Linked DNA regions of Homo sapiens. The protein of the gene in region 1 purifies or fractionates together with the protein of each later gene. This does not show direct contact. Each region holds a gene or a part of one and is shown on either strand. Other genes may lie near its edges.

Region 1 (3,651 bases):
AGACCGTAAAGACCTAATTAGGGTATAATTTGATATGTGCCTACAGTAAAAAGTATAAACTTTGGAATGAGTTTTGGAGGTAAGTTTCATGGGGAGAAACTGTTTATTTAAATTTAGAAACACCTCATATTCCAGGTTTTCAAACCTCTAAACCCTATATTATTAGAAAACAATCCTTTTCTGATAAAATTATGTGTAACCTTGTTTCTGTTCTCAAACTACCGCTTAATAGTTTGTAAGGATGCTTAAAAACACATTGTATTCATTAGTGTACCATTTGTAAAAAGACAGAAAACAAACTACCTTGTATATATTTTAATATATCCCCAAGGCTGGGCGTGGTGGCTCACACCTGTAATTCCAGCACTTTGGGAGGCCAAGGCATATGGATCACCTGAGGTCAGGAGTTCGAGACCAGACTGACCAACATGGGGAAACTCCATCTCTACTAAATATACAAAAAAAATTAGGTGTTGCTCAGGCTCACGCCTGTAATCCCAGCACTTTGGAGGCCGAGGTGGGTGGATCACCTGAGGTCAGGAGTTCTAGGCCAGCCTGACCAAACCAGGTAGAACCCTGTCTCTACTAAAAATACAAAAATTAGCCGGGTGTGCTGGAGGGCACCTGTAATCCCAGCTACTTGGGAGGCAGAGGCAGGAGAATCGCTTGAACCCAGGAGGTGGAGGTTGCGGTGAGCCGAGATTGCGCCACTGTACTCCAGCTTGGGGAACAGAATGAGACTCCGTCTCCCAAAAAAAAAAAAAAAAATCCCCATTTTTTTTTTATGTTTGTTGTTTTCTTGTATCATTCACTCTGCTCAGACCTCCTCCAAGAAAAATGTCCTTCCTTCCTCCCCATGATTTAAAATTACCTGGAGAAAAGTGTATTTTTATTACCAAAATGATAATGTTTATTGTAGAAAATATAGGTAAGCAAAGAGTAAAAAAATCCATAAACCCACAATATAGAGACAATATTTTGATGTATTTTTCCAAGTTTTATTTCATTTTTGTATTTTAAAGTGAAAGTTATTCTTTAGCAATAAGACATATATTCTGCTTTTTCTCTTAAATACTTCAAAGTACTTCAAAATATTTCTAACATAAGCATCAAATTTTTAATGATAGTGTTTTACTGAAATGGTTTTGGATTTTTAAATGGATTTTAGATTGTTAAGATAGTGTATTTGATCAATACATGGTTCTTATGTGCCTACTATGTGTATGAAACTGTGCTAAGTGGTGAGATAAAGAGCTATGGTTTTTATCTTTGAAAAGTTAAACAGTTGTCAAGACAAGACATCAAAGCATCAAGGCTTGAAGTTTAACAGTGACAAACGATATTGATAGTTGCTTGGTATGCCAGAAGAAATGTCCTATGCTATATGCTCAATTTCTTTCTTTCTTTTTTTTTTTTTCTGAGACAGAGTCTCACTCTGTCACCCAGGCTGGAGTACAGTGGTGTGATCTTGGGTCACTGCAACCTCTGTCTCCCAGGTTCAAGTGATTCTGCTGTCTCAGCCTCCTGAGTAGATGGGGCCACAGGTGTGCGCCACCATGCCTGTCTAATTTTTGTATTTTTAGTAGAGACGGGGTTTCACTGTGTTGGCCAGGCTGGTCTCGAACTCCTGGCCTCAAGTGATCCGCCTGCTTTGGCCTCCCAAAGTGCTGGGATTACAGGCATGAGCCACTGTGCCCGGCCTATATACTCGATTTCTTAATGATAATAACGAATAAGAATTTTAGAGTAGGCCAGGTGCAGTGACTCATGTCTATAATCCCAGCACTTTGGGAGGCTGAGCTGGGCAGATCACTAGCTCAGGAGTTGAAGACCAGCCTGGGCAACATGGCAAAACCCTGTCTCTACAAAAATACAAAAATTAGCTGGACATGGTGGCACGCATCTGTAACCCCAGCTACTTGGGAGGCTGAGGTGGGAGGATCCTTTGAGCCCAGGTGGTTGAGGCTGCAGTGAGCTGATATCGTGCCACGGCACTCCAGCCTGGGTGACAAAGTGGAGACCCTGTCTCAAAACAAATAAAAACTTAGAAGAGGGAGAGAGGACTTGTAATTCAGTTGGGAAGGATGAGTAAGATTTATGTAGATGAATGATGAATGGAATGGGGTTGGGCCTGAATATGTGTCAGGACTTGTGGATAGAGTGAAAGTGAGAATATTCAAAATAGTCAAACAAAATATGGGAGAAGAGTAGTGGTTTTGTAAGACAAATCATTAGAGAAAAAATTGAAAGCCAGATTGGGTCCAGACTATGAAATGCTTTCAATGTAAGGCCCAAGGAGTTTGAATTTAAAGGATATTGATCTAGGAGAGAAGTAGGTGTAGGGGAAGTAGGCTGAAAGAAAGTACTGTTCTAGGAAGACTAGGAAAGATGATACTAACATTTTGAGATTGGAGGATGTTCAGGTTGTATGAACAGAAGCTATGAATTCAAGCTTAATTGATCAGTTGGAAAGGGACAATTGAGGATGAGAAATTCTGTTTCAGTTGTGTTAATCTGTCAATGTTAGACCATAGACTCATGGTACTGGTACTCAAGAGAGAAGTCAATGCTATTTACCTTTTTCTCTACAGCTTCCAAACTACAAAAACTTTAAAGGCACGATTCAAGAACTTGGTCAAAACCAGTATGCAGTCAGTGGTGAAATATTTGTAGTGGACAGAAACACAGTAGAAATTACAGAGCTTCCAGTTAGAACTTGGACACAGGTCAGTGTAAATATGTGATCTGCCTGAGGGAAGGGCAGTGTATTAAGCAATTTTTTCTGGTAAGGATGATTCCACCGTTGTTGGTCCTAAGCGTGCGTAGTGTTAAAAAATTCCTGTACCTTCTTTTACCCTTCAGTTGAATTTGTGCTTTGAATATTTAAATAGTATTTATATCTAAGTAGCGTAGTATGACTTATGTTAGGTAAGGCTTTTATAGACTATTATCTTTGTATTTATTTAAAATAAAAGGAGTAGAATATGACAGTGTTTTTAATTCTTGTAAATATGGTCAGTAAATTCATGTCAGCATCAGCTTTACAAATCTAAAAGTATGCATGTCACCTCTTGACAGTTCCAGTTGATGTCATCCTTTTCATACTCAGCCTTTATCTTGCCCTTTAGAGTATGAGTGGGTCAGCACCATTACTTCTTATGTCTTTTCCCACCACCGAGATCCCTGTGTATTGCCTTCTATACTGATTGGATAGGAGATGATAGAGATTGAGGTTTCCTTTTTAATTCCCCATGAGAGTTGAGAATTTTCAAGACTGTATGACTTGTAGTATGAGAACATGAGAGTGTGTCATGAAAAGAATCACTAATTTTTAAATCTTTATAGGTATATAAAGAACAGGTTTTAGAACCTATGCTAAATGGAACAGATAAAACACCAGCATTAATTTCTGATTATAAAGAATATCATACTGACACAACTGTGAAATTTGTGGTGAAAATGACTGAAGAGAAACTAGCACAAGCAGAAGCTGCTGGACTGCATAAAGTTTTTAAACTTCAAACTACTCTTACTTGTAATTCCATGGTAATTTATTAGATTTACTGTTAATTTAATCTTTCTTGCATGGTATAAGTCGGATTATTATAATTGGTTTCATGATGGGAGTGGCTATAGTAAGCCTGAAGGCAT
Region 2 (3,651 bases), on another chromosome or scaffold:
CCCTTGTCTCTGCTGTGACCATCCTTCCAGTTCCCAACCAACTTAGGCATTTGCATTGCAGGATTGTGGGTTTTGTCTGTGCTAATTGTGCTCTGACTGGCTAAAGTTTTTTATATATATTCTAGTCACAGGAAGAATTTTATTGACTGTTTTCCATTTTTATTGTGAAGACCTATGTAAAAGCCTTATACTAGACATGAAAATAACTTATATTCATTTAATGTAAAATGAAATACTTGCCATATACTAACAGTTGAGTGCTGCGGTCCCTTCCAGAGCCAAAGCAAAGAGTCGGCTGAAATGTCATTTGCTGTCTCACAGGGCTAAACTTGAGGAAAAAAGGAAAAAGGAAGAAGAGAAACGGTTAAGAGAAGAAGAGAAGGTAGAGTGTTTCCCACAGAGCTTCCCCGTCCCAGCCCGTTGGAGAAGCAGATGCCCAAAGTGGAATTCTTGCCACAGCCGTCACCTAATATTCTCTTGGTTTGGGGAAACCAAATGGCGCCCGCAGGGAGGGCGAGTCTGTCTAGATGCGTTCTTGTTGCTTCTTCCCAGTGCTGGCTGTCACATGCCTACTGGCCCTGCAATCCTGGCACTTCTACCCACAAGGGCAACTTGGACATTTTGAGATTGGCTGGCTCAGTTGCGGGTCCGTGGGTTTTGAGAGCTGAAAATCACAGTAGTGCCTTCAAGCTAAAATGCTTGACGTTCGGTTCTGGGGGCCTTTGCATGTTTTGCAACACATACTGTTCCTCTTCCTCTCCTCTTTCTCATCACCATCTCTTAACATCACAGCGCATTAAAGCAGAGAAGGCCGAAATCACGAGGTTCTTCCAGAAACCAAAGACTCCACAGGCCCCCAAGGTGAGCAGCCGGCTGCCTTTGCTTTTGGGTTTCAGCTCTGCTAGACTTTTCCTTTCTGAAAGTGAAAGGGTCTCTCCCCAGCCAGCTTCTCTCATTAGGAGGGAGGGAGCCTCCAGTGACCTAGGGCACTTCCATTTCTGGTTAAGTCTTGAGGCTCAATATTTTGTCCTTCGCTTTGTCCCAAAGAGGTAAAAAGTGGCATGTCTGATTAAACAGTGCTGTTTTCAGAGGTTACTTCATGAATAATTTTGTGTTAGGCGTAAGAGAAATTCACCATGTTTTTACCCTTGGGAAACTTAGGCTTAAGGAGGGAGCACGTTTAGCTGTAAAACAACAGTACAATTCACAAAGGTTTACTTTCCCTGCCTGGCGTCGGTCACCTGGCATCTCAGACCTTCTGAGCCACCATCTGTGCATGGAAACCACAGCCCTCCTTCCCCTTTACCCAGAGGGAGCCCATCTCCAATGTTAGGGGTCCTTCAGTGCCTTTCCCTGCTCCACTCACTGTATTTATACACATGTGTACTTAGCTATCTCAGATTTGTGCCATGTTGCCACATTTAGATGTATTTCATTCTTTTTAATGTATCTGGCCTTTATTTATTTTTTGAGGCAGGGTCTCACTGTCACCCAGGCTGTAGTGCAGTTGCACAATCAAAGCTCACCACAGCCTTGACCTCTCAGGGTCTGGTGATCCTGTCACCTCAGCCTTCCCGAGTAGCTGGGACTACAGGCATGTGCCACCATGCCTGGCTAATTTTTTATTTTTATTTTTTTTGAGATGGAGTCTCACTCTGTCACCCAGGCTGCAGTACAGTGGTGCGATCTCAGCTCACTGCAACGTCCACCTCCCGGGTTCCAGTGATTCTTCTGTGTCAGCCTCCCAGGTAGCTGGGATTACAGGCACATGCTACCACACCTGGCTAATTTTTGTATTTTTAGTATAGACGGGGTTTTACCATGTTGGCTAGGCTGGTCTTGAACTCCTGACCTCAGGTGATCCGCCCGCCTCAGCCTCCCGAAGTGCCGGGATTATAGGCGTGAGCCACCGTGCCCGGCCTAATTTTTTAATTTTTTTTTGTAGAGACTGGGTTTTGCTATGTTGCCCAGGCTGGTCTCGACGACCTGGCTTCAAATGATCCTCCAAACCTCGGCCTCTCAAAGCACTTGGATTACAGGTGTGAGTCCCTGCACCTGGCCTGTCCTTTTATTTGTATGTTGAGACATTTGATGGCAATTGTGTATCCTGAAGGTGCACAATGTGACATTGTTGTACCTACACATCATATTGTGACAGCCAGAGATCCACATCATGTATTTTCACTGCCGCATAATACTTCATAATGCAATGATATGGTTTCTCTCTTTTTTTACAAAAATTATTTATTTATTTAGAGACGGAGTATTGCTCTGTCACCCATGCTGGAGAGCAGTGGCGCTATCTCTCGGCTCACTCTAACCTTTGTCTCCCGGGTTCAAGCAATTCTTCTACCTCAGCCTCCCGAGTAGCTGGGATTACAGGTGCCTGCCACCACTCCCAGCTAATTTTTTGTGTTTTTAGTAGAGACGGGGTTTCACCATATTGGCCAGGCTGGTCTTGAACTCCTGACCTCAGATGATCTGCCCATCTCAGCCTCCCTAATTTTATTTTTAGTAGAGACTGGGTCTCACTGTGTTGCCAGGGCTGGTCTCGACCTCCTGGTCTCAAGCATTTCTCTCGCTTTGGCCACCCACCGTGCTAGGATCACAGGCATGAGCCACAGAGCCTGCCACTATCTCAACCTCTTTGCCCCTCAGTGGTGTAGGGGGGGTCCCTGCACATGCTTCTCTGCACACATGCATTCCTCTGGGACAGCCAAGTAAGCATGAGTTCACCTCTAGGACAAAATAGCATATTGCTGAAGCATCATGAGCCATGGCCAGAGTGCGTGCCAGATGGGAAACTCAGATGTACATTCCCGGCGATGTGTGGAAATTTCCTCCCCATTCTCTGCTATCACTGCAATTTTTATGGGATTAATTTTCTTTTAACTTTGCCAGTCTGATGGATTTTTAAAAATTGACATTGTTTTACTTTCCATTTTTACTTGACTCTTGGTGCAGTTGAGCATCTTTTTCTGTTCGTTTGCCATTTTAGTTCTTCTATGACTTGCCAATTCCTATTTTTTTACCTATTTTTCTACAGGATTTTCTTTTTTTTTCTTTGCCTGATCTGTAAGTTTTTTTTAACATAGTCTAGTATTTCATTCTCCGTGATATTTCGTCTCAGCCTGTTACCTCTTTGTTTACAGTCTTTTTTTTTTTTTTTTTTGAGACACAGTTTCACTCTGTTGCTGAGGCTGGAGTGCAGTGGTGCCATCTCGGCTCACTGCAAGCTCCACCTCCTGGGTTCACACCATTCTCCTGCCTCAGCCTCCCGAGTAGCTGGGACTACAAGCGCCCGCCACCATGCCCCGCTAATTTTTTGTATTTTTAGTAGAGACGGGGTTTGCACCGTGTTGGCCAGGATGGTCTCGATCTCCTGACCTTGTGATCCGCCCGCCTCGGCCTCCCAAAGGGCTGGGATTACAGGTGTGAGCCACCGTGCCCGGCCTTTGTTGTTTTTTGTTTGTTTGTTTTGAGACAAAGTTTCGCTCATTGCCCAGGCTGGAGTGCAGTGGCATGATCTCAGCTCACCACAACCTCTGCCTCCTGCGTTCAAATGATTCTCTTGCCTCAGCCTCCCGAGTAGCTGAGATTACAGGCATGTGCTGCCACGCCCAGCTAATTTTGTATTTTTAGTAGAGACGG
Region 3 (3,651 bases), on another chromosome or scaffold:
AGGTTAGTGTGACAGATCAGAAACCCCAGAATTGACAGCTGACTACTTTCACTTTCATGTGTTACACATTGATGGTTGAAATTAAAAATTACATATCGGAGGTGTATGTTCTTCTACCTTTAATCTCAAGCATCTTGTTTCTATTTTTTTTTTTTTTTGAGACATCATAAAACAGCATGCCATCTTGTTTTTAAATGCCTCCTTTTGTAACTGCTGCCCTTATTCCAAACCATGTGTTCCGTGTTTTGTGTGGTTTAGTAGCCATGGTTACCATCATTTATGAACAAATATAGGCTCAGTGGCTGTGAATATCCATAGGAACCACAAATTTTAGAAGATGTTGCATTTCTTCAGCTCTGTAACATCCCTGACTCTCTGTGGATCAACAGATCATAAATCTGGTTCCCATTGTTGACAGGCAGCAGGCATTTTCCTGCATAGTAATGCTGCTATCATCTATCACATTTCCAGGTACCCTGATTCCCAGGGATCTGTGTGTGGCCATTTGTGCTGCCTGGTGAGAATGGGAAAGGGTCTCCAGATTTCTTTCTGCCCTGAGCAAGTGGCAGCGTATATGTGGTTGGGCATTGGAGGCTGATAGACGATTGTGGAAATAAATAATCTGCAACACAGTGCTTTCACTGGAGGAACTTGATTTGTGGTTGCTGCAGTGGTGGTGATGGTTGTTCTGCTTGACTTGTTTCAAGAAAATATACTTTAGACATAAGACTCTGAGATGGTTGATAGCATGTTTTGAAAGAAATGGCAAGGCCTATTGCAAAGTCCAGTTAAACCAAATGGATATTTACACCGTGCCATAGTGAGGTTGTTGATACTTTAGGGCATATGCTATATGGTTCACACCCTTTTTGTGTTTGTTTTCTGCTAGTGCCTGGATCAAAGTGGAACAGCTGAAGCCATATCATGCTCATAAAGAGGAAATGATAAAAATTAACAAGGGTAAACGATTCCAGCAAGCGGTAGATGCTGTCGAAGAGTTCCTCAGGAGAGCCAAAGGGAAAGACCAGGTGAGAGACACAATGTTCACTTTCTACCAATGCCAGACTGGTGATTTTTGCATAGCAACTAACAGATTAAATGTCACCCAAACGCAAACCTTTGTTCTTCTGAAATGCTACTGGAGAAAGCTACTTCAGTTCTAAGGTGTCAGCGTTTTGCTTATCAGTTTGAAACTCCATGCAGCTAACCTTTCTGGAGTAGGTTGTTGCTTTTAGGAAAATTGCTTGGACCCAGGAGAAATATCTCAGCATTTGAGTCTAGCACAGGCCATTTCTTCCTTTCATAGCACACAGATTAGGAGCATAGCCTCTGAAATACATATACTGCCTAGATTTAAATCCTTTCTTCTAGTTTTGGGACATAGGGAAAGTGACTTTTGATATATATATTTTTTAAATCTGCTTCTCCCAATGTCTGGGACGACAGCAGAATCTATTTCTAGGGTCATTGTGAGGAGACCACACAGAGTGCCTGTAGCAGCACATGGCACCTGTAAATGATGGTGGCGATGGCGGCAGCAGCTGTGGTGGTAGTTATCATTATTATTATTAAACTTTCAGACGTCATCCCACAATTCTTCTGATGACAAGAATCGACGTAATTCCAGTGAGGAGAGAAGTAGGCCAAACTCAGGTGATGAGAAGCGCAAACTTAGCCTGTCTGAAGGGAAGGTGAAGAAGAACATGGGAGAAGGAAAGAAGAGGGTGTCTTCAGGCTCTTCAGAGAGAGGCTCCAAATCCCCTCTGAAAAGAGCCCAAGAGCAAAGTCCCCGGAAGCGGGGTCGGCCCCCAAAGGATGAGAAGGTTTGTTTTCTCTCTGCAGCTTCCGGGATTAGTGATGTCCTTTTAGTACAAGGTAGAGTTAAGCTCTACAGTATGCTTATGTAGTATGCTTATCTATACTCTGCTCATGGAGTGGGAGCAGAATTCTGTGCTCAAGAATCCTGCAGGGCAGGTGCGGTGGCTCATGCTTTATCCCAGCAACTCAGGAGGCTGAGTCAGGAAGATGGCTTGAGCCTTGGAGCTCAAAGTTGCATTGAGCCGATTGCACCACTGCATTCTAGCCTGGGTGATGGAGTGAGACCCCGAATCTTATTTAAAAAATTAAAAAATAAAGAATCCCATAGACCAGGTGAGAGACACGGCCTGGATGCAGGTGTAAAGTAGGAGCGCGAGGCAGGAGAGCAGTCCACTTGAGCCGGTGCACAAGGGCTGGCCCTGGGAGGGGCTTAGCAAGAAAGAAGGGTAGGCATTCCAAAGATGGAGGGCACAGCCCGTGTGAGGCTCGGTGCTGGTGGAGATACTCTCGAACAGGGAGAGGATAGTGAGGAAAGCCGAGAAAAAGGAAGCTTGTCCCTGGATCGTGGAGGGCCTGAAGGTCTACTGAAGCAGCGTGGTACTAAAGCGTCTTGGAGTCAGTGGGGGCCCGGGAAGGTGACTGAGCCAGTGGCAGTGTGTGCCTCCCGTGTGTGCACCAGTAGTCACCGAGTGCAGAGGGGAAAGTCTCAGAGCCAATTAGGAGGTAAGTCTAGGCGTGCATTCATAAGGGGGTAATTGCAAATGTTGCAAGCAAAGAGGTGAGAGGCACTTCAGAGGAAGAGTTCTTAAGATTCCATAATTGGTTATATAGAGGATGAATGAGAAAAAGGAAAAGAGGATTTCCATCTTCATTCCTGGGAAAGTGGTCATCACTTTCTTAAAAGTAGAGGACTGGGGATGTAGAGGTGGCTTGTGGAGAAAGAGTACCAGTTCTGTTTGGAATGTCAAGAACTTGAGGCAAGGCCTAGACAGCCTGGGAGCTTGGTGTGACCTCAGGACTAGAAATGTAGATTTGGGAGGTGAATTTGTAAAAGGGTAGTTGAGTCCGGGCAGTGGAATGGGTTTGTTTCAGGAAGAGAGGGAGAAGAGGGAAGCGCGGAGGCCTGCATTGCCACAAGAATGCCGTGCTTGGGGCAGGAAGGAGCAGGAGGAGCTAGCAAGATGAGATAAAGCAGTGAGAGTGCCTCTCTCGCCTTCTTGCTGACAAGATTTGGGGCCGGTCTTACAAGGCCACAGAGAAGAATTTCAAAGTGAAGGGGACTGTGTCAGGAACGCGGTAGGATTGTCAACAGCAGGATAAAGAGAACAGAAGCCAGATGGCTGGCAGCAACAGTTGGGTGACGAGGCCATGATGGAACATTAGACCTTGGATCAAGGCTCAAAAATTCAGACACCAGCGAGCCCAGGCAGGTAATGGAAGCAACTGTAGCTGACTGGACCTAAGAAGCAGTGGCACGGGTGCCAGGCACCCCAGCTGACCTGCCTTGGTGCTCAGAGCAGCAGGGCTGGCCATGGTCAGGGAGTCTGGGGAGGTCATGCTCTGTCCACAGGGTTCTAGCCAGCTTCTGCCAAATTGTCTGTTTTTTCTCAAGAGAAGCTGGGAAGGCCAGTTGTGGTGTCTCATACCTGCAATCATAGCACTTTGGGAGGCTGAGGCAGGAAGATCACATGAGCCCAGGAGTTCAAGACCAGGCTGAGAAGCATAGTAAGAGCCTTTCCCTTAAAAAAAAAAAAAAAAAAAAGACAAAGTTGGCCAGGTGCAGTGGCTTATGCCTGTAATCCCAGCATTTTCGGAGGCTGAGGTGAGCAGATT

Evidence for each region.
Region 2: the proteins of TOP2B (region 1) and CHAF1A fractionate together in Homo sapiens (co-fractionation; one large-scale study listed by BioGRID). This does not show direct contact.
Region 3: the proteins of TOP2B (region 1) and GLYR1 fractionate together in Homo sapiens (co-fractionation; one large-scale study listed by BioGRID). This does not show direct contact.

The regions. Positions count from the first base shown.
Region 1 is NC_000003.12:25,619,757-25,623,407, reverse strand, and holds part of TOP2B (DNA topoisomerase 2-beta), read left to right. Parts: intron 1-2,591; coding exon 2,592-2,726; intron 2,727-3,345; coding exon 3,346-3,546; intron 3,547-3,651. UniProt on the Homo sapiens protein: Key decatenating enzyme that alters DNA topology by binding to two double-stranded DNA molecules, generating a double-stranded break in one of the strands, passing the intact strand through the broken strand, and religating the broken strand.
Region 2 is NC_000019.10:4,423,014-4,426,664, forward strand, and holds part of CHAF1A (chromatin assembly factor 1 subunit A), read left to right. Parts: intron 1-321; coding exon 322-382; intron 383-792; coding exon 793-861; intron 862-3,651. UniProt on the Homo sapiens protein: Acts as a component of the histone chaperone complex chromatin assembly factor 1 (CAF-1), which assembles histone octamers onto DNA during replication and repair.
Region 3 is NC_000016.10:4,830,151-4,833,801, reverse strand, and holds part of GLYR1 (cytokine-like nuclear factor N-PAC), read left to right. Parts: intron 1-889; coding exon 890-1,028; intron 1,029-1,580; coding exon 1,581-1,823; intron 1,824-3,651. UniProt on the Homo sapiens protein: Cytokine-like nuclear factor with chromatin gene reader activity involved in chromatin modification and regulation of gene expression. Acts as a nucleosome-destabilizing factor that is recruited to genes during transcriptional activation.